Regions from separate parts of the Homo sapiens genome. Here regions 1, 2, 4, 5, 6 and 7 are each linked to region 3. The links come from fine-mapping of genetic effects on gene expression. A gene starts in region 3. Each other region holds a variant in brackets. All regions are shown on one strand. Distances are between the middles of the regions.

The links. PIP is the estimated chance that this variant, and not a neighbour inherited with it, causes the effect. A credible set is the group of variants that fine-mapping cannot tell apart.
Region 1: its variant is the best candidate, but not a certain one, in a credible set for the expression of CREB3L2 in whole blood (INTERVAL, PIP 0.64).
Region 2: its variant is the best candidate, but not a certain one, in a credible set for the expression of CREB3L2 in whole blood (TOPMed, PIP 0.61).
Region 4: its variant is the best candidate, but not a certain one, in a credible set for the expression of CREB3L2 in subcutaneous fat (TwinsUK, PIP 0.84).
Region 5: its variant is the best candidate, but not a certain one, in a credible set for the expression of CREB3L2 in whole blood (TOPMed, PIP 0.82).
Region 6: its variant is the best candidate, but not a certain one, in a credible set for the expression of CREB3L2 in skeletal muscle (GTEx, PIP 0.82).
Region 7: its variant is the best candidate, but not a certain one, in a credible set for the expression of CREB3L2 in iPS cells (iPSCORE, PIP 0.61).

The regions. Positions count from the first base shown.
Region 1 is chr7:137,905,344-137,909,555 of GRCh38, forward strand. CREB3L2 (cAMP responsive element binding protein 3 like 2) reads right to left here. Exons shown (of 12, transcript NM_194071.4): 5 at 2,909-3,093; 6 at 359-505. Among named protein-coding and RNA genes, the nearest start is that of CREB3L2-AS1, 46 kb to the right of the region's middle. The variant T/C (reference allele first, on the strand shown) is at 1,927.
Region 2 is chr7:137,910,797-137,915,008 of GRCh38, forward strand. CREB3L2 (cAMP responsive element binding protein 3 like 2) reads right to left here. Exons shown (of 12, transcript NM_194071.4): 4 at 2,195-2,282. Among named protein-coding and RNA genes, the nearest start is that of CREB3L2-AS1, 40 kb to the right of the region's middle. The variant A/C (reference allele first, on the strand shown) is at 2,537.
Region 3 is chr7:138,000,337-138,004,548 of GRCh38, forward strand. CREB3L2 (cAMP responsive element binding protein 3 like 2) reads right to left here and starts at 1,750. Exons shown (of 12, transcript NM_194071.4): 1 at 1,268-1,750. The coding sequence starts at 1,369. It overlaps LOC124901752 (a long non-coding RNA gene), which reads left to right and starts at 1,971. Exons shown (of 3, transcript XR_007060551.1): 1 at 1,971-2,054. RefSeq lists enhancers at 1-153, 775-1,373, 1,290-1,429, 1,374-1,971, 1,520-1,609 and 2 more.
Region 4 is chr7:137,970,704-137,974,915 of GRCh38, forward strand. All of the region lies in intron 1 of CREB3L2 (cAMP responsive element binding protein 3 like 2), which reads right to left. Among named protein-coding and RNA genes, the nearest start is that of CREB3L2-AS1, 19 kb to the left of the region's middle. The variant C/T (reference allele first, on the strand shown) is at 1,973.
Region 5 is chr7:137,933,966-137,938,177 of GRCh38, forward strand. The region is part of intron 1 of CREB3L2 (cAMP responsive element binding protein 3 like 2); the gene reads right to left. Among named protein-coding and RNA genes, the nearest start is that of CREB3L2-AS1, 17 kb to the right of the region's middle. The variant A/G (reference allele first, on the strand shown) is at 2,028.
Region 6 is chr7:137,889,020-137,893,231 of GRCh38, forward strand. The region is part of intron 8 of CREB3L2 (cAMP responsive element binding protein 3 like 2); the gene reads right to left. Among named protein-coding and RNA genes, the nearest start is that of DGKI, 44 kb to the left of the region's middle. The variant G/A (reference allele first, on the strand shown) is at 1,697.
Region 7 is chr7:137,847,964-137,852,175 of GRCh38, forward strand. No RefSeq gene overlaps it. Among named protein-coding and RNA genes, the nearest start is that of DGKI, 3.1 kb to the left of the region's middle. The variant T/C (reference allele first, on the strand shown) is at 2,287.

The DNA.
Region 1 (4,212 bases), 95 kb before region 3:
GAGGAAACTATTGTATATATCATACACCCAAAATTTAAAAGGCTGAGTTAAAAAAAAAAAAAAAAAACTAGATGGAAATTCTAATAGCTTCCTCCCACCCGTAAATGTATCATCGTGGGCACCAAAGAGGTAGATACTGATCTGGGAGTCTGCTGGCCTCAAGAGGGATGGGATGGGCTGGAGGAAGAGAGGGGCACGTGGTGAGGGTGCTCCTCCCAGGGCTTAGGGAAGGGAAGGGCTGGGCCTTGGTCTCCACCATGGGATGGGGTAGTGCTGGCCGTTGGGAAGGCAGGGAAAGGGATGCTGACTCGATTCTGCTCGTCTCTGCTCTAGAAGTGCCTAGATTTGAAGAGCTCACCTTATTCTTGATCTTCCTCCGAATTTTCTTCAGGGCCTTCTCCTCTGATTTTGACAGGGGCAATTTGGTGGGGATGGGATAGCCCTCAGCGATCAGGGTCCTCTTCTCCTCCTCTGTCAGGACCAGAGGGCCTGATCCCTGCAGTTTCTGTGCAGACCAAGGAGCAGAAAAGGGTCAAAGAAAAAGAACTGGGACCACTGAAGAATCACCTCCCAATGGGATGATGAGAATCTGTTACAATGTCTTACAGAAGGCTCTGAGACAAGGATGCCCCATCTGCTTTGGGTGACAGATGGGTATTTTGAAGGGCATGGGAAGATGGGGAAGACACCCCCATGTGAGTGTTATAACCTAGGGATTATAATTCAAGGGAAAGAATAAAGAAGCCTCCACCCATTATTTCCCGGGAAGCACCCTACTCGCTAAAACATGAAAAGAAAAAGCAGAGAAGTCATTTCCCACATCCCTAGAGATTTCCTGGCCTTGGAGTGATGAAGGATTCATTTGCAGCCCTGCTTTGTGCAAGAATTTTGTTGTTCTCCTTCTGAAAATGCAGTTTTATAAGGTGCTCTCTACACAACAGGAGTCAATTCTCTCCTCCACTTTTAGCTAAGAGTGCAGAGCACCCAGGGACACATCTGCAGACTCTTTCCACAGAAGCCTCTGGCTTCAGCAGTCTCAGAATGTCCATCAACAATGAAGACAAGAACAGTAGCACATCTCATGGAACCCACAGTAGAATGGCATGTTTATAATTAATCAAACAGAGTCCCTATTGCATTTTAGCTCCATACTAAATGCCATGGAGGACTCAAAACAAACCCTACCTCTCAAGCAGCTTGTGATCAAGACTGTGAGACTGAACTGATACCCATGAAAGGATAAGAGTAATTAAATGCTAAACTGTAATCTTAGCTGATATGGTTTGGCTCTGTGTCCCCACCCAAATCTCATTTTATAGCTCCCATAATTCCCACGTGTTGTGGGAGGGACCCAGTGGGAGATGACTGAATTATGGGGTGAGTCTTTCCCATGCTGCTTTTGTGAGAGTGAATGAATCTCACAAGATCTGATGGTTTTAAAAAACAGGAGTTGCACTGCACAAGCTCTCTCTTTGCCTGCTGCCATCCATGTAAGACATGACTTGCTCCTCCTCGCCTTCCACCATGATTGTGAGGTTTCCCTAGCCACGTGGAACTGTAAGTCCAATTAAACCTCTTTCTCTTGTAAATTGCCCAATCTCGGGTATGTCTTTATCAGCAGCATGAAAATGGACTAATACATTAGCTAAAGGTGTACTAAAAATTTGAAGTAAGAGAACACTACTATGAGTTGTGTGATCAGGAAACGTTTAGGGCAGGAGATGAGATTTGAATTGGGCCTCCTGAAAGAAAGGGGATGATTTACATAAGAGAGAGGAGTGCATTCTAAGCAAAAGGCAGTATTTTGAAAAGTCACTGAAGAAGCCACTGCCTAGTGTGGGTAAGGAGTTCTTGAAGCAGCGGAGGGTTGGATACCTGATAATGAGTAAAGGTGTCAGGGCTTGGTACCAACAAGTAACAGGGAAA[T/C]ACAACATAGTTGTTGGGCAAGCATCCGACATGGGGAAGAGTTCCTCCATAAACATGTAGAATGGACAGATCATAGTAGTACACACAGGTATATAGGATACAAGCTATTCTAGTAATCCAAGGAGTGAAGTCAGGTTCAAGGTGAAAAGGTGAAGAAAGAGTGGAAGGGTGAATTCCCTTGTCCTCAGTAACGATGAAATTTAAGAATGTGGTTGCAGATCTAGAACTTTCAGGGACAGAATCAATACAAATTTTCAAAGTTATGTTAATTAATGGACGGATGGTACTTACAGAATTTTAAAACATCTCATTTCATTTAAATTTTCTAGTTGTGAGATTGTGAATTCAAAATAGCTGATTATAATTTTTAAAATTTCATAGAAATCAATTCACTCCTAGAACAATAAGGAGTTAACGATCTATTCTTCTTTATTATGGTGTCCTCATGTATGGGAGGGATGAACGAGGGGTCTTGATGTCTGATCTGAGTTTCTGGGTTAAGAGTCATATGACACACAGAAAAGGCTTAAACTGTTTTTGACCTTTAGGCATCAAAGAAATTAATCTCAGAGTAATTTTTAAGTTCACCAAAAATTGCTTCTTTAAAATATAAAAGGTATTTCCTATGACATAGGTCACAAGGACCATTAAATTAATGCAAATATTTATGATAGAACTTTGAGGAGAAAAACCCCAAATTTTTATTCCTCATGTCTATAGCTCTGTAAAATAAACATATGAATAAAAACTGGAAGTGTGCATGTGAAAAGGAAGAGAATTGTGGTAGTAAAAGGTGAGATGTGCGGGCAGTTCCTAGAAAGTGTTCTTTAGGGTTGACATCACTCTGCTTTCGCCATTAAGCAGAAACTTCTTGACAAAAGTAAAAACCAAACAGCCTTGAGTGGTCCTGCTCTGGATACAGCCCCAGGGGAATGAATGGAGAGGGTTCCCTTTGGTCCAGGAATGCCCGCTGCATACTTACATGAGGAGCCGTGAGGAGAGGGGAGCTGGAGAGGGCGGAGGGGGCCCGGGGTGCAGCTCTGGAGGGGCTGTGGGTCTGAGGCAGGCTGAAGGGGTGCAGGCGTGGGTTGGGACTCAGGCTGCCCTCTGAGTCACTGCCGTGACTGCTCGGAGGGGTGGGCGGCAAATGCAGGTGGTCCACTGGGGCTGCAAAAAAGGAAGCACATCTCATCCATCCCAGAGCCACAAAGCAGGACACAACTGATTTGTGGCATAGCAAACTAAAGTGTGAGGGGCCTCCATGAGCTGACCTGGACAGATCTCCAAGGTGCAGAGCGTGGATATGGGAGTCCTCCTTTTGTATGAAAAAGGAGAGAAAGAGGATATAGACCCACATTTGCTTATACTGGCAGAAAGAAACACTGGAAGTGAATACAAGAAACCAATAAACGTGCGACCAGGGGCCAGGCAAGGTGGCTCATGGCTGTAATCCCAGCACTTTGGGAGGCTGAGGTGGGCAGATCACCTGAGGTCAGGAGTTTGTGACCAGCCTGACCAACATGGCGAAACCCCATCTCTACTAAAAATACAAAATTAGCCTGGCGTGGTGGCACGTGCCTATAATCCCAGCTGCTACTCAGGAGGCTGAGGCAGGAGAATCGCTTGAACCCAGGAGGCAGAGATTGCAGTGAGCCGAGATCATGCTAAAATACAAAAAAAATTAGCCAGGTGTGGTGGCACACACCTATAGTCCCAGCTACTTGGGAGGCTGAGGCAGGAGAATTGCTTGAACCCAGGAGTTAGGGGTTGCAGTGAGCCAAGATCACACCACTGCCCTCCAGCCTGGGTGACAGAGCGAGAATCCATCTCAAAAAGCCGGAGTGGCTGCTTTGAAAAAAGCCGGTTTGTTTCTGGAGCAATGTGCGTGGTCATGCCCGCAGGCAAGACGCCAGGCATTCTTCATTCAGAAAACATGAAATCCATCTTCAGATACGGGAGTGAGCACAGGAAAAATAAGTGAGAGTGCAGTGGGGGGACTTTCTCCTCTAAAGTCTCCCGCGTCTTTCCTCAAGGAGGCACAACACCCTCTCTGCCAGGGCCTATGGAGCCTTGGTCAGCGTCCATCAGGCATCTCCAGGGCAGCAGAGATGGGCTTCTGAAGGAGGAATCCAACCAGGCTTCCACGTGAATGAAAGCACTCTTGGGTCTCACTGTTCTTTCTGAACAGTGCACATTTCTGTTGTACCAGCCACTGCTACTGAGCCAAGGGAGATAACTGCAGGTAAACGCTTCACTCCTGGAGCCCCCAGGACAATGGATTCCCCT
Region 2 (4,212 bases), 90 kb before region 3:
AAGAGCTACAGAGCTGGCCAGAGGCACCTCAGGATCAGATTTCTAAATATCATTTGAAATGCTGCTTTTGGGTTACTGCAAGGTCTGGGGACAACAAGCTACTGTGCCTAGAAACTGATGCAGTCAAGGATATTGAATTTCCTTATCTCAGTTTATCCAGGATAATGAGGAAGGGCTGTCCTTAACTTCATTCTTGAAACATTTCTCCTCCAATAACCCTGGATTCAGAAGCCACTATGGGATTCATTGTTATGGTGATGACACTTCTGAACCACATCACAGCATAAATTAAAAGAGTAAGATGCATTTGATAGTAATAACTGGTGTTATACAAACGAAAGCAATTACTTTGAAGCAGTACATAAAGCTGAAAGGCACTACTGTCTGTCACTCAGTGCAAAGACATAGTGTCTCAATATGGATTCTAAGTATTAACTTTTACTAAGTAAATAAGTATTATTTACTAAGTATTATTTCACTAAGTATTATTAACTTTTAAAATTTAATCCTTTCTTTATTGATAATAAAGGCAAATAAAGGGCCAGCCCTGATTACATTGTTACAAACCAAATCCTGAGTTAGTTTCTAATGGAATGAAGACAGACGATATTTTCATGAGAAGTGCTCATATGTAAACATCCTCACATTTATATACCGTAGCAAATATACCTTTTCGGTGACAACTGTATAAGCCAATTTCTTATTTGTTGACCACAGTAGTGAACTGTACTTTGAAATTTGTACTGAAAGTATGAATGGGACCGGGTGAGGTGGCACATGCCTTTAATCCTAACACTTTGGGAGGCCAAGATGGGAGGATCACTTGAGCTCAGGAGTTTCAGACCAGCCTGGGCAACATGGTGAAACCCTATCTCTACAAAAAATACAAAATTTAGCTGGGCGTGGTGGTGCATGTCTGCAGTCCCCGCTACTTGGGAGGCTGAGGTGGGAGAATCGCTTGAACCCATGAGGTTGAGGTTGCCATGAGCCATGATGGCACTACTACACTCCAGCCTGAGCAACAGAGTAAGACCCTGTTTCACACACAAAAAATAAATAAATAAAAAGTATGAATGAAAAGGGAAGTGATGGCATGAGTGAAGGCACAGAAGTGAGAAGAGCAGGATGTATGCCGGAGAATCTGCATACGCAAGGCAGAGAGAGCTTCATTAGACCTCATGAGGCTCAGGGGTCTGCATCCAGGATTCCTAACTATGGGCTTCATAGGAGAACAAAGAGGGAGAAACTCAGAAAGAAACTGACATAGAGAAAGATAAATATAGAAATATAACAACCTTGGCCAGGCGTGGTGGCTTATGCCTGTAATCCCAGGACTTCAGGAGGCCGAAGCAGGCGGATTGCCTAAGGCTGAGAGTTCAAGACCAGCCTGACCAATGTGGCAAAACCTCGTCTCTACTAAAAATACCAAAATTAGCTGGGTGTGGTGGTGCACGCCTGTAATTGCAGCTTCTCAGGAGGCTGAGGCACAAGAATCGCTTGAACCTGGGAGGCAGAGGTTGCAGTGAGCCGAGATGGTGCCATTGCACTCCAGCCTGGTAACAGAGTGAGACTCTGTCTCAAAAAAAAAAAAAAAAAAGTATGATCACCTCAAGGATGTGTTAATTCTAAATGGATGGATGTCAAGAAGCCCAAAAAGATGCACAATTGTGAACCATGAACATGACCAAATAGAGAGGGGGCTCCTTGCAATAGTTGTCATTCAAAGTCAATGTTTACAAACAATGAATTGGCCACATAATTAATTGTGAATTTACTTCACAAAGAGTTGAAACTAGAGTTGTTTGAAATAAGCAAGGTGCTTTTGTAGATGGTTGTTGATTTGTGGGGCTACGTAGGGTTCACGCCTGGATGAATAAGGGCTGCAGTTCTCTTGTTCGATAGTGTTTGTAGTAGCAGTCCATAAAAGTTTTGAAAAATATCACCCTGGTTAGAAGTAAAAGTATGGTAACACTTAGCTGAAATTTAATCACGTGCATATATGGGAAAATAATAGTTAGCTTGCAAAATTTTTATTTGGAAGCAAAATTTTTATTTTTTAAGAACAGAGCTATTTCATAAAGCCAGCTACAACATCTGTGGTACAAACTCATCCCAGCTCTCTCGCCATATTCCCTCTCTGTAGACCCAGAGACCATATCCATAACCCAAAGGGACACAGGGAGGGCAGACAGACCTTCTTTAGGAGAGAAGTTTAGAAACTGATCCACTTCATGAGGCTCCAGCTTAATTTTAGGAATAATGGTCTGGCACGAGGAATCAACCTGGAGGAAGAATTTCAAACACAATTTTTAAAAACCAATCACAGCCTTGAAGACACATGCAGGAGAGCTATTTGTCACCTGTGTCTTCCTCTCGGGACAGCCCTGCCTATCCTGGAGAATAGCTGAGTGTAGGCAACTTCCCTGACAGGGAGTCATTTTAGTTCTTAACCTTTTTCTCATTGCCAAACTTGGCATTACAGCTGACAGGACCTTCAGAACTTCCTTGAGACCACCCTGGGTAACATAGTGAGACA[A/C]CGTCTCCCCAAAAAAATACAAAAATTAGCCAGTTGTGATGGCGTGCACCTGCAGTCCCAGCTACTTGGGAGGCTGAGGCAGGAGAATCACTTGAACCCAGGAATTTGAGGCTGCAGCGAGCTGTGATCATACCATTGCACTCCAGCCTAGGTAACAGAGTGAGACCCTATCTCAAAAAAAAAAAAAAAGAAAAAAGAAAAAAAAAGAAAAAGAAAAACACTCAGAACTCTAAAGTTGAAAGCCAAATGCTCAAGCCCAAAACTATATCAATATTCTTTTCTATGTTTTTATAGTACTATAAAGGCATTTTATTACAAAATATTCTGGTACTTTTTTTTTTGTGGCATCATTCTGCTAACTTTATTCTTTATACATAGTTTGGGTAAAGTAAGAACCAAACACTGCTTCCACTCCCCCTATCCTCACTCCACTTTGGGGGCTTTAAAAAGCAACTTATAGTTGATACTGGTGAGGATTCCCAAGACTACAGAATTTAGTTGTAGAGCGTAACTGTGCATTTGATCACTGAAAGAAAATAAGAGACCTTCTAAGAGGTGGTGACCTTAGCAGAATAAGGAGGGGCCAGGGGGTCTCTTATCCCAGTTCAGCCTCACACCAGCCTGGGAGTTTTCCCTGCCTGCAACGTAAAGCAGCCTGTAAATTACATATAGCCACAATGCACTTAAATCGAGTCAATCACCATGGAAAATGGGAACTAAATTTTAAAGAGTCAAAGGCCTCCACCAGCTTGCCCTGGGGTAGGGACTGTGCACCAAGCCACATCCTTTCTCTTATATATAACTTTATTAATATTAATAATTAATAATGTTATAATACAATTAATATAATTATTAATAATTAATATTAATGATGTTATTATTAAGGCTTCCTAATGACTGATGGTATCTAATCACGAAAATCCTGGTAGGGAAAGGAGAAAAGTTATCTGGCCCATACACAGGAGCAAGGCCATGCCTCTGAGCTTTGCTAGTTACATACTTTACAATAATTCAACTAGGCCGGGCATGTGGCTCACGCCTGTAATCCCAACACTTTGGGACGCTGAGGTGGGCGGGTCACTTGAGGTCAGGAGTTCGAGACCAGCGTGGCCAACATGGTAAAACCCCATCTCTACTAAAAATACAAAAATTAGCCAGGCGTGGTGGCTGGTGCCTGTAATCCCAGCTACCTGGGAGGCTGAGGCACAAGAATCACTGAACCCGGGAGGCGGAGGTTGCAGTGGGCTGACATCATGCCACTGCACTCCAGCTTGGGTGACAGAATGAGACTTCTGTTTCAAAAAAAAAAGTAATAAATAAAGTAACTAAAATTCTGTGGAGCAAGGAGACTAATATAGACCAGAGAGCCCAGCCTAATAAAGAGACTCAGGTAGCTACTGAGAAAGGAATCCTAGCACACTTGCAGAGGCCTCTGTCTACAACCCTTCATCATCTACACAGATGGACTGACAAGGGAGTAAGCAGTGACACTTTAATGAGTCTACTGATTCTGTGTTACCATATTCTGAACAGGTAGACACTACATCTTTTTTTCTTTCTTTCTTTTTTTTTATTTCTTGAGACAGAGTCTTGCTCTGTTGCCCAAGCTGGAGTGCAGTGCCTCGATCTCGGCTCACTGCAGCTTCCGCCTCCCAAAGTGCTGGGATTATAGGCAT
Region 3 (4,212 bases):
TGCTGCCCACATAGTGTCCCCATGACAAGCTCAGCAAGCAAAGCCCAGAAGATCACACTGAACATCTGGCTTTTGCCCCAGCATGAACTACCACTCCCTCTCAGCCCTGCACTCTGCATTTTTTTTAAACAAGCCACTCTCAGCCACCACAAATACTTCGGTGGGAATCAGCAGGGAGGCCCTCATTCCTTGTCTCAAAATAACGTCAGCCAGAGTCAAAGGCCAAAGAGGTGGAGCCTGCAGGCCATTTTGCGAAAGTTTCAAATATCTTGGTACTGACCCCATTAAAAAAGCGTGAAGGGGAAGCAGCCAAGCCTCCAGTGGTTTTCTCATTAGTGTCCCCCCTCACCCCAGCCCCACCCCCATTACAAACGTCTGCATGGATAAGAATCAAACAAAGAGATCTTGCATAAAGTCCTATGATCAGTGCTGGCTATTGAAAACAAAATTTCATTTTGCAAACTTAATACCAAAAACTTGACATTAAAAACTTTAAAAGAAATGTGCGTGCTCTGGGACAGCTTAATCCCCCAAGAGATCTCTGAGGCATTAGTATAAGACTGAACAAGCAACTGGTGAGCTGTCCCACCTTCCCCAGAGCCTTTCTTAAATATGCAACTGTCTCAGATTTTCCATACTCCTCTGCTGGTTTTTCCTCCGAAGAGGGAGGAAGGAGACTTCTTGGTCGTACAGTTTAAGAAAGCAAATAAAGCCGCCTTTCTCCCTAACGTAGAGGAGCCCTTTCAACACACACACACACACACACACACACACACACACACACACACACGTGTACTTTTTAAAATATAAATATGAAAGAAGAGGAAGGGAGGGAGAGAGGGAGAGAGAATACGAGACAGATGAAAAGGAAATGCTACTTAATCTTGTCCAGTTTTTGAAAACCTCAAAAAAAAATCAATAGCAAACTAGGCGGAGGCATGTTATTCTCAAAACACACACTCCCTCTCCCGCATTACAGTACTGTTAACAACAGCAAATGATATTACAGATGGAAAAAGCCTCAGGGAAAAAAGCATGAATTGTTAAAGGAATACAAAGTGGCATTACTCTCATGAGAAATGTAAAGGGGCCAGCTGCCCGCCTTCATCTGCTCAGACATTAAAGTACACCTCGCCCAGGACCTCTTGATTCTGACCATGCCCTGCCCCAAACCCTGCCTTCCCGGGTCCCAGGACTCCAGCTGCTCCTCGCGTGACAACACTTGCCCGCTTTGAAAGCCCTCCTGCCCCGCCCGCCGGGTCCTCACCGTGTGGTACATGAGGGCCTCGCCGTCCCCGGGCTCTGACAGCTCGCTCAGCTTGCGGTCCCACTGCAGCACGCCCTGCTCCCCGCTCTCCAGCACCTCCATGGCGGTGCGGGCCGCGCTGGGCCGAGGATGCTAAGCGCAGGAGGGGACGCGCAGAGCTGCCTCGGACCGGCAAGGTTCCTCTCTCTCCGCGTGTGCTTGCGTGTGTGCGCGCGCGTGTCTGTAGTTTTGCACTTGGAAAGCAAACGTCTGCTCCTCTGCCGGAGAGAGGATGGCCAAGCGCTCCCGTCCGGTGTCCTCGGAGATCCGAGAATCCCCAGGGACACGAGCCGGACCAAAGGCTGCCGGGGCTAAAGCGGGATGTGCATCCAAAATGAAGGCAGAAGACCCGCTCTCATCCCAGGAAAATCCCTTAGCCGCAAGCCCACTTGCCGCTACGGCTCCAGACACAAACTTTGAGGGACCCCAGGGCTCCTCGGCTCTGCTCCAGGACCCAGCTGCGGCCCCACCTCCCTCCAAGGCTTGACCAATTGGATATCCGCCTTGCCTAGCAGACCCAATCAGAAGTCTCATTCTCGGCTTTGTCCCGCCCCCAAAGGCAGAGGCCGCGGGAAGTCTCCGCCCACGCCTTGGAATGTAGCCGGGGAGTGTCTGTGACGTCACCGAGGAACTCCTCCTGCTTGAGCGCGGCCCGCTGTCTGCTGTCGCCTACAGCTGACCAATAGAGGGCTTGGGTCCGGAAGTGATGGACTGGAGGCTTGACTAATGTGAAAGGGGCGTCTGAAAGGTACAGCCAATGAAATAGCGACAAGAATACATTTTGTAAAAGAGGGAGGGTGAGTTCAGTCCTCTTGCTGAGAATCCTCAGAAATTTACCAGCGCGCCGACAGGGGGCGCGAGAGTTGTTGCGCGGGGGGCTTAAACATTTTCGAGTACTTTAGTTCATTTGAATCTCTCGGAATTTTTTTAATGGATTACATATTATACAAAAATACAAATATTCCTCATGCACATACATTTATATTAGTGCAGCTCTAGGAAATTGTCATTGTTCTTCACCTTTTTCGCCCATTTTCTGTTGGGTTCTTCTATTTTTTATGGACTTCACTTATTGTATGTTTTTCTTTCATCTGCTTGATAAGAGTCAATGGCATGCTTTTCCAGGTCCTACAGAAGTGAGCCCAGTCCTTGAATTCATAGAGCTTTTATCTCAGAGGAGTCAGGCAATAAACAAAGAAATAAACATTTAAATTCAGAAAGTGGAAATTGCTATAAAGAAAAATAAAAGCAGGAAAACAGGATGCGTCAAGATCGATGCTATTTTACGTGCTGATCAGGGAAGTTCTTCCTAAAGGAAATGAGATTTCGGGGGAAGCTGGTATTCACGTGATTGCTGGGGAGGCCAGTGTGGCTGCAGCAGAGGTGCTTGGCAGGGAGGGGTGGGAAAGGCCAGAAAGGTGAGCCAGGGCCAGAGCACCAGGCCTGCCTCCTAGAATAGGGAAGAGATGGCCTGTTCTAAAGGAATTCCCCCGAACACTGTGATTCTTCTTCCTCCTTTTTAATTCCAAAAATATAGTTTACCTATCTTAAATATAAAAGCAGGTCTTTGCCAGTTAGCTCTAGAAGTTTCTTACAATGGCACATTCAGGTATTAGCTATTGTGTTGTTTCCTTGGCAAGTATTTTTTGGCGGGTGGAGACAAATGTCTTTGAACTCTATGTTGTCTTTAAAGCAGCAGTTTATCATATAAACTATTGCATTTGTCTGGTCCTATCTTCTGGGGTCTTTTGAGATTTTTTTTTTTTTTTTTTTTTTTTTGAGACAGTCTCACTCAGTTACCCAGGCTAGAGTGCAGTGGCACGATCTCAGTTCACTGCAGCCTCCACCTCCTGGGCTCAAACAGTTCTCCTGCCTCAGCCTCCTGTGTAGCTTGGACCACAGATGTGCACCACCACACCCGGCTAATTTTTAAATTTTTTGTAGAGGCAAGATCTCACTTTGTTGCCTGGGCTGGCCTCAAACTCCTGGGCTCAAGCAATCCTCTCTCCTGAGTCTCTCAAAGTGCTGAGATTTAAGGCATGAGCCACCACGCCCAGCTTTTGAGATTATTTTAATGCTTAAATAGAAGCTCTAGTTTATGGGCACACACCTTCCTTATATAATAGTTTTCTCATTTTTCTCTTAGGTTCTTGGTTTTTCTTTTCCAGCCTGGTATCCCCTTCATCACATTCTTTCCATAGATTGCTCTTTCCATTTTTAAAGACCTTTCTTATTTTTTTAATCTGTCACTCAATGTACAATGGGATTACATCCACATAAACCCATCATAAATTGAAAATATCGTAAGTCAAAAATGCATCTACTATACCTAACCTATCAAACATTATAGCTTAGCCTAGCCTACCCTAAGATGTGCTCAGAACACTTATATTAGCCTACAGTTGGACCAAATCATCTGGCAACACAGTACTAGTTATTTACTGTCATGATTGTGTGGCTGACTGGGAGCTATGGCTCCCTTGCACCAGGAGAGAATACCATATTGCGTATTGCTAGCCCGGGAAAAGATCAAAATTCAAAACTCAAAGTACAGCTTCTACTGAATGCATATCTCTTTCACACCATCATAAAGTCAGGAAATCATAAGTCATAAGTCAGGAACCATCTGTACCTCTTCCTTAATGTAGGAATACAAACATTTATCCGTGAAGCATTTCTGCTTTTGACAAAGTCTAATCCTGCTTATACCCCATGTAGTAGCCAGTTTCCAAGATGGCATCTAGTGATCCCACTTCCTGGTGCTCACGCTCTTGTGTAATTCCCTCCTCTTGAGTCTGGGCTAGACCTGAGGACTTTCTTCTAACAGAATATGCCAAAAACGAGAAGATGTCAAAAAGATTATGGCTCCTGACTTGCTTGTTTCCTCTTCCTCTCTTGCTTGCCTG
Region 4 (4,212 bases), 30 kb before region 3:
CCTCACAGTAACTGCCTTGATGACTGGCAGTGTGGCCCAGACAGAGCACATTCCATAGGGCTGGACAGCAGGCGTGGGGCCAGCAACCGTTAAACACACTTTTGTATCCTCCACTAAAAAGAATGTCTGGAACCAACAGCATGTGCCTTGTTCTAAGAACAGATTTCTCCTCCAGCTATTTCTCCAGCTTACAGAAGAAGTGTTTATGCAGTGTGCACCTACCTACACTACGGTTACTTTATAGCTGGGTGCCTCAGTGTGAGATACTTAAGAATATCCATATTTTTAAAAAGCTTGGAGAATGGCATGCTTCCAACATCAGCATGAACCTAGACCCTAAATTAAGTTAGCACACATATTAAGAGATACACACAAACTTCAAGAAAAAACAAAATCAAGTCTACACAGAGTTTAAAGGTGCCTACTTATTTCCAGAGTCAGAATTATGTTTAAAAAAAAAACTGGGGCCAGGCGTGGTGGCTCACGCCTGTAATCCCAGCACTTTGGGAGGCCAAGAAGGGCGGATCACGAGTTCAGGAGATGGAGACCATCCTGGCTAACACGGTGAAACCCCATCTCTACTAAAAATACAAAAAATTAGCCGGGTGTGGTGGCGGGCGCCTGTAGTCCCAGCTACTCGGGAGGGTGAGGCAGGAGAATGGCGTGAACCTGGGAGGCGGAGCTTGCAGTGAGCCGAGATCGCGCCATTGCACTCCAGCCTGGGCATCAGAGCGAGACTCCGTCTCAAAAAAAAAAAAAAAATTTTGGATGGGGGGAGACATTGTATGAAGGACACTAAGGCAACACTGCAGACACCGCAGAACTTGATCTTTTTGCGGCTAGGCTGTGATGTGTGAGTGCACACAAAACACCGGTCCTTACTCTCTGCAACCCGAATCCCCTGGATCTCTTTCCCCATTGTAAATAACCTTATCATAAGTTCTTACCTTAATCATTAACTTCTCTGGATGGTACAAAAAAAAAAAAGGCCAGGGTCTGTTTTCTAATGTATATTCTTGCTCTTTCCATTTTTCTAAAACTATTAATTAAACATTAAGCCAACTTATTTAAAAGAGGGAAAAATGGGAAATAACCTAAAATCCTAATAATTGGATGTCACTTAAGAACCTACAAAACATACACTCAATGAACAATACACGGCCATTAAAAAGTGATAGATAGGCTGCTCTGTCTATGGAGTAGCCATTCTTTCATTTGTTCACTTCCTTAAAAAAAAAAAAATAATGGCTAAGTATTAAAATAGGAAAATGTCCATTATTAAATACAAAAGGGCATGGCACAATAGTTATATGAATATGTTTTATTAATAGCTATGTAAAAGAAGTATTCATAAAAAAAATCTGAACTCTAACACAAGAGAAATTAACAGCAGTTTCGGGAGTGCATAATGAGCTTTTGACAGATGTCTTGGCTGGGCGCAGTGGCTCATGCCTGTAATCCCAACACTTTGGGAGGCCTGTAATCCCAGCACTTTAGGAAGCTGAGGCGGGCGGATCACAATGTCAGGAGTTCGAGACCAGCCTGGCCAACATGGTGAAACCCCGTCTCTACTAAAAATACAAAAATTAGCCGGGAGTAGGGTGCACACCTATAATCCCAGCTACTTGGGAGGCTGAGGCAGGAGAATTGCTTGAACTCAGGAGGCAGAGGTTGCAGCGAGCCAAGATCATGCCACTGCATTCCAGCCTGGGCGACAGAGCAAGACTCCATCTCAAACAAAACAAAACAAAACAAAACAGAGAGATGTCTTTTTTGCTTGTTTTTTAGTTTCTTTAATGAGGTAATACTCTTTTTGTAATGAACAATAAGAACAGTATTTTTTTCTTGATAAATAAAAGGAAGCCAGGTTTGGTGGCTCACATCTGTAATCCCAGCTACTTGGGAGGCTGAAGTGGGAGGATAGTTTGAGGCCAGGAGTTTGAGACCAGTCTGAGCAACACAGTGAGATCCC[C/T]GTCTCTACAAAAAAAAAAAAAAAAAAAAAAAAAAAAATATATATATATATATATATATATAGAGAGAGAGAGAGAGAGAGAGAGAGAGAGAGAGAAAAGAAAAAGAAAAACCTAGGATAAAGGTTGATTTCTTATTTTAAATTCCACAGTCACCTAAGGGAACTAAACTCTAAGGCACCTGTAACATTCATGAATAAATACACTGTGGATCAACCCAGGGAGCATTTTCATACCAGCAAGGCCCCAGAATGGACACCCTGGTAACAAAGTCCTCTTGTTTGGGGGAATGTCCCCAAATCCCTATATAGGAAAGAAGCTTCAGGGCCTCTATGAAAATATTTACACATGAGAGAACACAGACACACACACCCCAAATCCACATGAGAAATTGAAGAAATAGCATATCTAGTGGGTGCAGCGCACCAGCACGGCACATGTATATGTAACTAACCTGCACATTGTGCACATGTACCCTAAAACTTAAAGTGTAATAATAATGAAAAAAAAAAAAAAAGAAATAGCATATCATGAAAAACTAAAATGGTTTGAAATTCTTCAACTAACGATGACCTTAATCATAGAAGTCCCCATTCCAACTTGTTTGCCTTGTACGGAAGACTTGGGTCCCAAGGAGAATCCACACACTCCTGGTGAGGGTGTGCTAAAGTTGATCAAGTTTAACTAAATAGGTTCAGTACCGCACCAAGGAACACAGAGTTTCCCAGACAGCGGCCCACCGGCGCCTATTCTCTTTGAACACAATGGAGAGGCACATGACCCTCGGGAGCTAGAGGAAAGCTCACCTAGAGTGAGTTGGAGTCTGCTGTGCTCCTTGGTGGGAGCAAGTAGCAAAAAGGTAACAAGAGATATCCTAAAGTCAAGAAGGTAGCAGCACAGGGCCCATCCGACACAAGATCACAGTTAGTAAGCCCAGAGACTTATTATGATGGATCTGAGACACTAATGCCTAATGCCACGAGGCAAAAAAGTGAGACTGCCAAGAGGGACCCTACTAGTCAGCCATAGTTTTACAACTCAGTCTTCAAATCCTTCTCTTACACACCTCCTGGCATTGTTTAATCAATTATTCAGACAGGGCTTCTGATGAATGGCTCCCCCATTCATATTCACAGTTAAATTCTCCAATAGTTAACTATGCACGTTTTCACAAGATTTCCAACAACCTGAAAACATTTTATGAGCTGGCATTGCATGTTCTGGGGAGTATTTCCAAACCAATAACTGCTCATCATTGTCTCTGCTGAAGTGAATCTGGAACGAGCCAAGACCGAGAAATGATGGCACAGGGAACCTATCAGAGGCAGAAATATCCATATTATAAAGTTAGAAATAAAATAATGCCAAGCATCTGCTCTTTAAAAAAAAAAAATCAACCTCCTTGTGTAAAAAGAAAATGAATAAAAATACTTGTCCTACCTACCCCATTGGTTTCATTCATTGAACAAATATTCCTGAGAGCTGGGTACTGAGGTACAACGGTGATGAAAAGCAAAGAGACCCTTGCTCTATTGGAACTTACAATAATGGGAGAGAAAAGGTGAAACAATCAAAATAATGAATCAAAAACATGAAATATTATAACCCCTCTGAAATAAAGGAATACAGATCTCTAAAAGCAGGAAGAGTTTCCTTAAGGCTTGAGCACAATCTGAAGGCTAAGCACCAGGCAAAGGGAAAAGGGTGAAAAGAGTGTTCCAACCAGGACCAACCGGCATGTACAAAGGCCCCATGGCAGGAAGAAATGTATTTAAAGATCTTAAAAAGGGGAAGGGGACTCATGGATGGAGCGCAGATTGTCAGGGAAGAGATCAGATGTCAGGGAAGAAATCTTTGAAAAGATTTCTCTTAAACTTGGGGATGACACGAAAGAGAGAGAAGGGAGAACAGATATGAGAAAAGTTGTTAATAGGCTACTGCAATAGTCCTGGCAAAAGACAGGGATAGCTCAGTTCTAATGAGGTGACCAAGGAGATGGAAAGAAGTGAATGGAGTCAAGCTATTCAAGAGGGAAGAGCCACAGGACTGAGTGACAGATGGGATACAAGTTAGGAGAGAATGACATCAAGAACGGCTCCTAGGTGCCTGGCCTGCCCCAGTGAATGTTTGACTGCACCATTTGCTGGAGATAGGGAACAGGTTTGGGGTAGAGCCTGTGAAAGGTGAGGAACCTTTGAGATAGTCCAGTGGAGAGACAAGCTGGCAACTGGATAATCAGGTC
Region 5 (4,212 bases), 66 kb before region 3:
CGAGGAGGAAGCCTTTCTGGATACTGCAAACGCTTTAGCGAAGTACTGCTCATGTGAACCCAAGGGTTATGGGATTTTAGTTTAATTCCTTCAAAGGCAATGGCATAATAACATTTTAGCATTCTAATATTTGAATCAAACTTTATGAGTTTACAAAATAATTTCATAACCTTTTTCTCACTCAATACTCACGACAATCCTGTAAATTGGCTTTTAGTCCATTGTCCAAGATCTCTGTCCCCTACTGAGAGACCTTGAGCTAGGGTACTCATGTCAAATTGACTGAATTTTTTTTCCTTATTGTTTCTCCTAGGAAAGAGATATTTAAGCCTCACAATACAACTGTATGGAGAGGTTCTAACAAGTGTAAAACCATGATGGTGATGATCATGGATAATGATGTTGTCAGGATTAGGTGCTAGACTTGTGTGATGGACTAAGTACTTGACATACTCGATTTTCAGAAAATGAAAACATGTCCCCATTTACAGATCAGAAAACTGGGGCTCAGGATAATTAGCTATTTTGCCCTGAGATGCACAGCTGATGAAAGGTGAAACTGATATTCTAGCCCATGTTCAGCCAGTTCCAAATCACAGGCACTTTCTACAGCATGCTCCCTCATTTGTGTCAGCCTCTAAAGCTAGATAAAGATAGGCTCACAGACGGTCATCCGCTATGAACACATGGTCTCCTGCACTAAACCTGTAGAAACATGCCAAGAGTTTGTTAGAAGGAGAGGCTCCTGGTATCACTTGCTGTGATACATCAGCAATAAGGATGGAGATACTTATTCGGCCTTAATGCATGTTTCTGCCAAAGGATTCAAGCAACATCACAGAATCTCTCAGTTGGAAGAAACCTCCTAATAGGATTGAACCCCTGCCTCACAACATAAATGTTCTTCACCCAGTTCAGAGAATACACATGGCAACTTCCCTTAAAAATTTGTGTCAAGTTTTATCTCCCCATTATCTTAAGATTCTGAATTAAACATCCTGCAACTATCCCATAAAGTTTTGTCTCCCTTTATTCTTATAAACACAACACCTTCATTGCAATCCTAATGGTCACAGTATGGCATTGTGGCAATGTAGCTTTGGAGTCAGTCAGCCCTAAATTTGAATCCTGGCTGTGCAAGCCTGAGGAAGATATGTCCATACTCCAAACCTTGGTTTATGAGGTTAACAATAATGCCGGCAAAGTGAAGTTAACAATAGTTCCGGCCTTGTGTCATGAGAATTAAACTAAATAATGCACGTAATACACCTAACACTTCACTGCATAGCAATCTTTTAAAAAGCTCTTTTAAAAAACTAACATAATTAAAACAATAAAATGTTGGCATTTTCTACTTGCACACCAGCTTCTCGCATTGTTCTTCCTAGAATATGCTTTCATTTTCATCTTTACCAAACAGGAAACTACCTAAGACAGAACAAATGTACTTCTTTTAGAAAGTCATCCCTAGACAGATACACCTTGAATTGATCTCTCATTTCCCTAAACAAGTAAAGCCCTTTAAGTATCTCTTAATTTGACACATTTTTCCTTTTCTTTGATGTTCCTTTCATTGCCAAGTTACTTAAATATCTTATCACTAGGCCTTCCAAACTCTATGGCCCAGATGTAAACCGTTTACCCACCCCTCTCTCTGGACCTAGCCCAGATCAGAGATCATAGATCGTAGATAGTTGCTGCATTCAACAACTATCTCATTTGCATCTATTATCATTCTATAACATCCTAACGAAATAGAAGATAAATCCAAATTAGGGCTAGATCTCCCAACAGTTATAAATAAGTGCCTTCAAACATTTAAAATGTATATCCAAATTTACAAATCAGATAAATTAGGAGAAATTTTTATCCTTATAAGAATTACTTATTTTATAAAAAATTACCTCGGCTCTGAAGCATTTACGCTTTGAGTTTTCAGGTCACTAATGAACTGCCAAAGTAGCTTGCAAGGAAGGAGTGGTTTATGATCTGGGCCACTTCCTGCTGCTAACAACTGCCCTAAGATC[A/G]GAGGTCACGAGGGTGAGGAAAGGGGAACAAAGTGGGAGGAAAAGGAAGGATTCATAATTCTTTAGTTCAAATAACTGGCTGCATAAAGCTACCGACCTGTCTTCCGTACAGTACTCTCCACTAAGGTTCGCCCACTCAACAAATACAGTGGGAGCATGGGCAGAAAGATGAATAAAGGTCAGTCTTATAAAGACAGAGTTATCCCAAGGTGCAAAATGAGTTAGCCAGAATGTATGTCCTGTGCCCCATCATCCAGAGAACTTGCAGAGCGTGTTCTAAAGCAGTTGTGCCATCCCATAGTCAGCCCAACAGGCCTCTTTTGTGCACAGGCTAACAGAAGAGTGCTGCACCAGACCAGTTAGGGACAGGAGTTCTCTAGTCCCAGCCTTGCACTTCAGTGGTGGTCAGTCTGCCTCTTCTAGACTCAGTTTCCTTACCTGTAAACCTCTGTGTGTGTGCGTGTGTGCATGTGAGTGTGTGAGTGCTATGTGTACTGGGGATGAGGGTAGGCTTTAAACCTGATCAGTAGTTTGTCACCTTTTTTCACCTTTTTTAAATTCTTAGACCCTTTTGGGAATCTAATGAATGCTCCTGCCTGACAACCTAATGCTCCTTTTGGGAATCTAATGACAGTCCTGCCTGAGAAATGCTCACAGCCACAAACACACAAACACAGCCCAGCATTTCAGGAGGCTGACCCGCCCCTGAAGTCTGTCTGCAGACGGCAGGGGGATTCCATGGATCCCGGGCTAAACCCTGCCAGCAGAGAAAGTAGTAATAACACAGGGATATTTATAAGTCATTGCTAACAACCTATTCAGCTCTACTACCCTATCATTTTCTAAAATGTTGCAGGCAACATAAAATGGAGCTACGAAGGTTTTTCAACTTGGGAAAAGGAGGACAGAGAACACCCTCTTTCTGCCTCCCGGGTTTGTTTAGATTTGCCCCTGTAATGCCAGCCCATGGGCAGTGAAGCAGGTGGCCACGGCAGGTAATAGGATTCAGAAAGCAGAACCTGGGCTGGCAACAAGAGGCCCAAGGCCTGCCGGGGCTCCTTCTGAGCTCCCCAAGCATTCAATTCCCAGCCCTGCCCTCTGGGAAACAGGGAAGCTTTGCAGCCAGTCTCTGGCTGAAAAGATAGTTCTCCGGCAGGCAGGAGAAGAAGCCTCTGTACTTAAAAATCGTGGCTAGGAGCCTTACCTAGAGCACAGAATGCCTCCCAAAGACTGGAGCCATAGAAGAAGGGAGTGTGGCAAGAGCAAGCTGATCCTCTCCATAAATGATTCAGAGGACACAGCTCAAATTCACATTAGAAACCAAGGCCTCCTTCCAGCAAAACATAGTTTGACTGTATTGCTCAGGCAGGGAGGAGCTGCCCTGGGCTCCTGGCATCCCCTAGGCCACCCTCCCTCCTCCCCTTGCAGGGAGAGAAGGGACCTGCCTTCAAAACCAGTGCACCTTAGACCTGAGTGGCTCTCACACAAGTACCCTGCACACAACACACAGAAAAGGGCCAGATGCCAACCATGAGGAAAAAGGTGACCTTGTCAAAGTCCCAAGAAAAAAAAATGGCTCACAAGTCAAACTCCATTACAGTGAAATTTCAAGGATACCCAATTCTTTTCTAGTACAAAAATGTAGGCCCATTACATATTTCTTTAATTTTTAAAAAATGGGGGCTGAGCTTCGAACTCTTTATTACACCAGAGTTTTGGAGATTTGTGGTGGGGGTTATTTTGGGGAGGGTGTTTTGTTCTGAAGTGATATTTGCTTTACTGAAATTTCACTAGCAGTAACAAAAGCTGTGTTTTAAAGAGGCTTATTACCAAAAAAAAAAAAAAATTAAATAAATAAATATATGTACACCTTGCTTGGTAGTATCCAGATGAACCTTTTTTTTTTGTAAATGAAGTATGTGAAATAGATTAAGCAATAAAGGCATTGAGAGATGATATTTAAAGGAAACCTATTATAAATCCATTGGTAGGGTATATTCAATATTTTGTAAAAGGAGTCACCCTGGGAGAAGGAGGAATAAATAGGTGGACCACAGATGATTTTTAGGGCAGTGGAACTCTGACACGGATACTATAATGGTGGAGACACGTCTTTATACATTTGTCCAAATCTATAGAATGTACGACACAAGAGTGAACCCTAATGTGAACTATGGACTTTGAG
Region 6 (4,212 bases), 110 kb before region 3:
ACCAGCAGCCAGCCCGTACTTCCTCCCTGCCCATCCCCTACCCCTTGCCTAGTCCTTAGAGCATGAATAGCTTTAAAAAAAAAATCCACACAAGGAATCAGTCCTCCCTTCCAATTTCTGGTTGATATCTCTGGGCCCTGTACCCCTTCCCCTAGGATGAACAGTCTCCTAGGAGGCTCCCCAGTGCCTCCTGAAAACAGACTTTCAGCAGGCCAGCTACACCTGAAGCCCACTGAAAGAATATCTTAGGCTCAAATTGGAATCCCCCATTCCCCAGTCACAGGTGTAAAGTGCTACAAGTTGGGAAGAAGGACCCTTCAAGAAGGGCTGGAGAGAGCAGAGAGGGCTGGTGTTTCCTGACTGCACAGCACTTTGCTTGGCATTCACGGACACATCCTTTCCCAACTCAAGATGACTATATTCTGAATCCACTGCAAATGAAAATGGTTGTTTAATAGTCCCTGATTTCTAACAGTTTATAATCTAACTCTTTAAGATGAGCAAACATGTGTTTTAAAATACACATTTTTAGTTCGAAATGTTGGTGGAAAGCGCAACAGTGACTAATAATATGCTGTTTGCCATTGCTTCTCCTACTGGTGCTGGAGAAAGTAAACGGAACTGATGGTGGAAATGACAACATGTGCAAGGCCCCATCAATCAGCAACACTGAGGCATTTCGCTCAGTCATCCCCAGAATCCAAACAGACTTCTATGATCCAATAGAGTTTGGGAAATTCACACACATCCATACAACAGAAACACTCCTTTTCATCATAAAAAGAGAAAATGAACAATGACAGAGTACTGAGTGCCTACTACTTGAGTTCCAAGAACTACATACGCTAAAATACTAAGCAAGCATCTCAAAGTCACGTAGCTAATAAGTAGAGGACCTAAGATGTAAACCAAAACCTATCTGACCCCATAGCTTGTGTACATTCCAACATGGTACAGCATGGTACCCTAATCAATAACCTACTAAAATTAATAATAAAGCATGTCTTAGTTAAGTAGATTTTTCTTAACTCCAGTAACATTAATATTATGTTGACACCAGCCCAACTGAGATATGTCCACCATTAAATATGAAAATATTACTATTAAAAGAGACTAAGCCATAGACGGAAGAGCCACAATAAAACCCATTCTGACGGCAAGGAGATGCATACTAACAAAATTTCAGTAACAATGACACAAAAACCATCAGGGCAAATAAATATTGTGTGGTATTTTCTCTGGATACATCAAAGATAAAATGCAGATAATAGATAAAAGAATCAAGGGTACTTCTTGCCTAGTTAAGGTTCAGGAAGTCAAGCCTGGGCTTTATTTAGAAAAATGGAAAATATAAAACCTGTCTCTCTGTGAAACACCAAAAAAGCTGATGAGATGGCTTTAGAATTGCTAAGCTGATGCATATATATATCAGGAGGATTGGCTCTAAAGGCAAAGACACCTGAGTTTCAATCAGAGGATGACTGCTATGTGCCTTTAATCAAGTTAAGTTCTGAGTTTAGGCAGCTACTCAGATGAATTCCCTTGACCACATCAGCTCATGGAATAATGAGAAAATGCCCCCTCCCAGGGTAACTCTGCGTTTGCTGAAGCAAATACATCTTTGAAGAGTGCTTGCTGTCTCTTTTCACTGATGACAGATGAGGCCAGTCCTTTTTATGGGAAAGCCTGTGACCTC[G/A]TAACTGATATGTTGGTTTGAGATGATGTGGCACTTTCTCTGATGTCACTGAGACAGATGTCACTGCCTGCAGCAATGGGAGCTTGGATGACAGCCCCCACCCTACTTGCATGAAGGGCTGGGTGGAGAAAAGACAGCCAGCAGATGAAATGGAAAAGTTATTTTTAAACTACAGCTATAAAAAGTCAACCGCAGGACAGATCCAATGGTGCCTATGAAGCTCAGTATAAACTTCCTCTTTATTATTGTATTTTAAATCATCAGTGATCATGGCTAATTATGGCCTTAATGAATTCTTGGGCTTCCGGGAACAAAATCTTAATTTAGAGAAAGGAATACTCTTAGCATACGTTTATCTGGGCCAACAGATTTTTCACAATTTGTTAAATTGGAGTGTCCAACACTTGATTGAAAATGTGGATTTTGTCCTGTGGTGAGATGTAAAAATAAACTCAGTGGCTATCCTCATGCAGTTCCTTGCAAAAGAGCAGTGGAAAGCAGCTGTCAGCCTTGCCCAAAATAAACCATCACCCTGTATCTTGGGAGGCATATCAAAGGAAATTGGGCAAAACATTCAAAAGAATCCAAGAGTGGGAGACACAATCTTACAATAACTGGGAAATGCATCAACAGTCTCATGTTTTCTTTGTCTTTGGTTTAATTTTGCTTTTTGTGTGTGTTTCCTTATTTACAAAAGAAAGAATGAGAACAGTCATACAGTTATTGAATGTTGGACTTTGAACATTCAGGAACCTAATTTCCCACTGGAGTCAGAAACCAGGAGCAGGAAAAAAAAAAGTGGTGGTTCCCAATTATTTGCTGTGTTGGGAGCTTCAACTTAGGCCCTCTCTGTAGACATACTTTCTTTTTTTTTTTTGAGACGGAGTTTCACTCTTGTTGCCCAGGCTGGAGTGCAGTGGCGTGATCCAGGCTCACTGCAACCTCCGCCTCCCAGGTTCAAGCAATTCTCCTGTGTCAGCCTCCTGAGTAGCTGGGATTACAGGCATATGCCACCACGCCCGGCTAATTTTTTTTGTATTTTTAGTAGAGATGGGGTTTCACCATGTTGGTCAGGCTGGTCTTGAACTCCTGACCTCAGGTGATCCGCCCACCTCGGCCTCCCAAAGTGCTGGGATTACAGGTGTGAGCCACCACACCCAGCCACACATACTTCCATCAAATCTTACAACACATCTTAGAAATGGAACTCTCTGGGGAGTGGTGTGTGCGGGTGCACATATGTGTGTGTGTGCCCATATGTATGTGTGTAAACTATTCCCTGGGTAAATCAGCCTCCTTCAGAGATGAAGGAACTTTTTCACAGCCTTATGGAAGCACCTAGAGCAGTCATTTCCAAATTCCAAATCATGAACCATTTGTGGGTTTGTGAAATCAATTGGGTTGTGACTGATATATGTTTTTAATGAAATGGAGTCAAATAGAATACACAATATCAGAGGGCATTGTATGCTGTAAAGAACTATCGATTTGTGAAGCATTCATATTAGTGAGGTGTATGATGTATATGTACATGTTCATGTGGTAGTCTGGTGTGCCATTTACACTACATAAAATGTAAAATAATTGTACAATCAAAAAAGCCTGAGTGTTACTTATCTAATGCACACAATTAAAAAAAAAAAAAAACAACTTGGTCAGGCACGGTAGCTCATGCCTATAATCCCACTACTTTGGGAGGCTGAGGTGAGCGGATCACTTGAGGTCAGGAGTTCGAGACCAGCCTGGCCAACATGGCAAAACCCTGTCTCTACTAAAATATAAAAATTAGCCAGGGGTGGTGGTGTGTGCCTGTAATCCCAGCTACCTAGGAGTCTGAGGAACAAGAATCGCTTGAACCCGGAAGGCAGAGGTTGCAGTGGGCCGAGATCACGCCACTGCACTCCAGCCTGGGTGACAGAGCAAGACTCCATCTCAAAAAAACAAAACTCAGGTGATGATCAGGTGACCTCATGATGGAAGAGATGAGCATCCATGTCCTTCTGAGGCAAAATCCCCCCTGAATCCCTTCCCACCCCACCCGAGTCACATCTAGAGTTAGTGCCTGGGAGGTTCTGAGGTGAGAAGGGGGTGTCCAACAGCTGAAACCTCTACCTCAAAATCCTGGGATGGAGGGCAGGGAGGTGGCGGGATACAATGTTAATAATTATAAGTTCTACACATTTCATAAGGATATTTAAGGAAAATCATGAACAATCTCAAAGACATTTAAATACTAAAGTGTGTCATACACAAAAGACAACCATATCAGCTCAAACTCCTAAACCTTGAGTAAATACCTATATGTTTATGGCCTTTTACTTAAGTTTTGAAGGTTGTTCATGGGGCTCTGGCCTAAATGAAAAAAAAAAGCGTATAAATTTTCTCCTTTTTCTTCCTGTGTTAATTGCTACATTACAAGAGGCTTCTTTATTTTGTAGGAACCAGAGGGCATTTCTGAAATGCTATATTACCTACTGGCCCAGGAACAAACACTGGCCAAGGAACAAAAACTGAGG
Region 7 (4,212 bases), 150 kb before region 3:
GCTGGCGTGGTGTGCCCGTGAACAAAGAATTGTAATACTGGCAAAAATCTAAATTGCTTTCTTTCCCTTTATTTTCTCATCACTAAAATTAGGAAAATGAACAGATATGTCAAATCTCTTCTAACACCCATGTTCTGTAACTCTCCTCGTATGTACCTTATAATAAGACAAAGGTAAAGACATTTCCATGTGCAGCGAGGAAAAGTAATAATAAAAATTAAAACAACTAGCAAGTATGAAGCCCTCTTTTTATACGGTATGTGCTGTATAAGCACTTCCCTCATCCACCTCTATGTTTTCACAGCACCTCTCAAGGGCTTGGACACGTGCAAATGCAAACTGGCAAAGCCAGGAGTCAAGCCAGGCTGCTCAGTGGCCTTTGTGCTTCACCCCAGTTTAATGCACCCGTCTTCAGAAGGGACATCGTGTATTAGGTGCTTCAACACAAGATCCACGAATATCTCGTACATCCCTAAAATCAAGCAAATGTCATCTGAACCCAATTACTGGGACAGCCCCCTCATTACTCCCACTTACTTTTAGCCGTATCTTCCCCAATCCAATCTCAAGTGTGAGCCCCAAAATACTTCTGATTTTTCACGCCTCCACTTAAAAATCTTTTGATTATGTCATATTGCCGTTAGGGTAAAGTTCAAACAACTCAGCTGATTTTGAGGGCTACATTGGTGGGTGGTGGAGTACTGCCCGCTTTCCCTTCATACTGTCATGACAGTGAGGTTCTGAACTGTTCTTTGTGCAAACCCCACACGCTCTCTGCTCTCTCCATTCCCATTTTTGCACGTGTGAGTCTGCTGTCTCCTCTTCTTTGCTTCTCCTTTTCCTAAGATTTGCCAAGCCAACTACTCTACACCTCCATCGGATTTTAGTTTACATGTCTCTCCCCATGTTTCTCCCCACTAGAAGCCTCCGTTGATGATCCCTTTCTAGACTGTGATGGACGTACCTCCCATAGCTCCCATTGCACCATTGTACTAAACTTGGACCACTGCAACTGTCATGTGTCTATTTATCCCACATGTATATAAACGCTATATGTTGTTTATCACTATATCTTCAGTAATAATAAACAGGTAACATAATTGCATAAGTGTGTATATCATAGACCATCATGAAGTGTTTATTGACTGAGAAAAGAAATATACATCGTTGTGAACATAATGAAAGACGTCATTTTTCAGAACAAACAGTTTGATAATAGATGGTATTGATGAGGGGGTATGAAAACAAATGCTTCCTCAAATTTTTGATATACTTTAACTAGTAAAATCTCTCTGATGGTAAATTTTACAATATCTATCCATGTTTGAAATGCATGACCTAATTAACTAAGCAATTTCACTTCTAAAAATTCGTCCTCTGATATACTTGTAGGTATACACAAGGATTTAAGATTGAAAACAACCTAAATTGTTATTCATCCAAACAATGGAATTCTCTGGAACTGTCAAGATACATAAGGCAAGTTAACATTCATTAATATAAAACAATCTCAAATATATAATGTTAACAAAAAAAGAAAAACAATGCTCAGAGTATTTAGTAGTATGCTATCATTTATGGAGAAAAGAAGATCTATAGAGATATAATATTTCTGGAAGGATACATAAGAAAATGGTCACAGTGAAGCGGAGTTGAATGGCTCTAGCTAGAGTCTTGAGGTTTTGCCTGATTCAATAAGTACATGCCAACAGAATGTCTCCCAGCCTATCAGAAAAGCCAGCTGGACCTCTCAAGTGTGTATTTATATGTTTAAATAGTGTATTAATGGGTTGCTAATCAGAGGAATATTGGGTTTTTAAAAAAACAGTCATTGAACATTAACTCTAACTTAAGACAGAGCGACATTTGGGAAGCACAAATAATTCCAGCAAAAGACAAATGAATTCTGTTGTGGGGTGATCTCCTGAGAAGTTACTTAAAATATTAGTCATTCTCTTAGACAATTTATTTTCCTTTCTATTTTTCAACGATCACCAAGTAACCTTGTAATTATTCATCCTGCTTCTTAGTTTCCTTGACACTAAAAAGTGGAATCCTTGAAAATGGGTCAAAAGCATTCTAATCACAAAAATAAATTGACATTCTGCTTTGAAACTGCATTGCATGTGATTTTGAGTAACATAAGTACATAACCAAGAAAATGAGCATCTCTGGGTATATTGAAACATCCAGTGTCTGGACCTGGAAGTATAATCTCAGACCTCAGATGGACAATATTTCCATGACTGGGCCCAAAGCCATGCCCCATTTGGTGAGCTTCCTAAC[T/C]CACCTTTCTATTATTAATTACTGTTCAATCTAAAACAGGTGTCATCCTAGTCTTAAATACCAACCTTGAGTCTCCTAAATGCCGAGCTTGATAAAAGGGCTTCAATGTGAAGTTTGAAAGAAAGAAGAAAAAAAATTTAAGTCTAGATAAGACTGCAAGACCAGATAATAATGAGAACATTATATTTAACATTTTTAAATGTATGTAGTTTTCAGGAATTTCAGGAATTTTCCAGAAATAACACAGAATGTTTTTTTAAAAAGTGACACATTTAAACATGCATATGCACACATTGGAGACCTCAGTTATGTATAAAACCAGGAAAAGATAATAGAGCTTTTGAAAATGTTGTCACTGAGGAAAAAAAGAAAAAGAAGTTTCCAGGATTAAGTTTCCAGGATGTATCATGTTGTACAGAAATGATAACTGAGCTCTCTTGTCAAAGCCTACAAGGCCCCACTTGGTCTCTCCTGTGCCTCCTCCATCCCTGCAGTCCCTCACCTTCTGACTCAGCTCTCCTAACATCCCATTTCTCATACATGCTGTATTAGTCCATTTTCACACTGCTATAAAGAACTCCCCGAGACTGGGTAATTTACAAAGGAAAGAGGCTTAACTGACTCACAGTTCTGCATGGCTGGGGAACCCTTAGGAAATTTACAATCATGGCAGAAGATGAAGGGAAAGAAAAGACCTTCTTCACATGGCCGTAGGAGAGGCAGAGCAGAGAGTGAAGGGGGAAGAGCCCCTCATAAAACCATCAGATCTCGTGAGAACTCACTCACTATCTTGAAAACAGCATGGGGAACCACCTCCATGATCCAATCACCTCCCACCAGGTCCCTCCCTCGACATATGGGGATTCCAGTTCGAGATGAGATTTGGGTGGGGACACAGAGCCAAACCACATCACATGCTGAGCTTATTCCTGCCTGCCCGTAAAGCTCTACCTCAGAGGTTCCCAGACTTTCTCAGTTCACACCACCCTTTACTGAATGTCTCAGTAATTATTTTTCCTGGCACTTCTAGGCTGAGATTTATGAAGATGAACCTAACACTTATGTTTATTAAGTATTCAGATGCTAACAATTCAATAAACATTTACTTCTTGACAACATTAGTAGCTATTTGAAAAAAACATAAATTGAAAGAAAAAATGTTTGTACTTCATTTGTAAGCAGCCACAATCACTTACCAATGGGATAGTAATGGGCATGACACAACCTCTCAAATCTTAGGATCATATTAGACACCACCACCTTCATTTCCTGTTCCACACTAATTTTCATGTGGTATTGCTCCTTAATACCACATGAAATTGCAACCACCAAAACCCAGCTTTGCAAACATAATGATGTCACTGAAAGAATGTAGTGTAATCTAGTGTTGAAACTATCAACTACATTGAGTCAGTAGTATGCATGGTGTCTAACAAATGTCAAGTATCTCTGAGTTTCTTTCAAAATTTTAATATATCCTGCGGTGCCCCTGTGAATATACGGCAGAAACCTGAGCACCTCCATGAACCTGAGCACAATTCCTGAACTATGGTTCATATTTTTGTATTGTGTTTGTTTTTGTCTGAGTTTTCTAGAAAACAGATCCTGAGGCAAAACTTACAAGCCAAGACTTTATGTGAAGTTGTAATTCCAGGACTCAAGAATGAAGGAAAAAGAGAATCAAGGCTGAAAAGGAGGGGAAAGTAAATTCAAGGTGGCGAGTTATGAATGACTACAGCATCACAAAACAACATACCTGCTTTCTTGGTCACCAGCACTTCTTCCAGACAGGACCTACATCATTATATCCAGAAACATTCTGTCCACAGGAGAGAGTGGAGATTCTCTGCCAATGTCTTCTTGTCTCCTGTTGAAACTGGTTGAAGTTTGTCCCTTAGAGAACTAATTAATTCACCCTCACCTCCA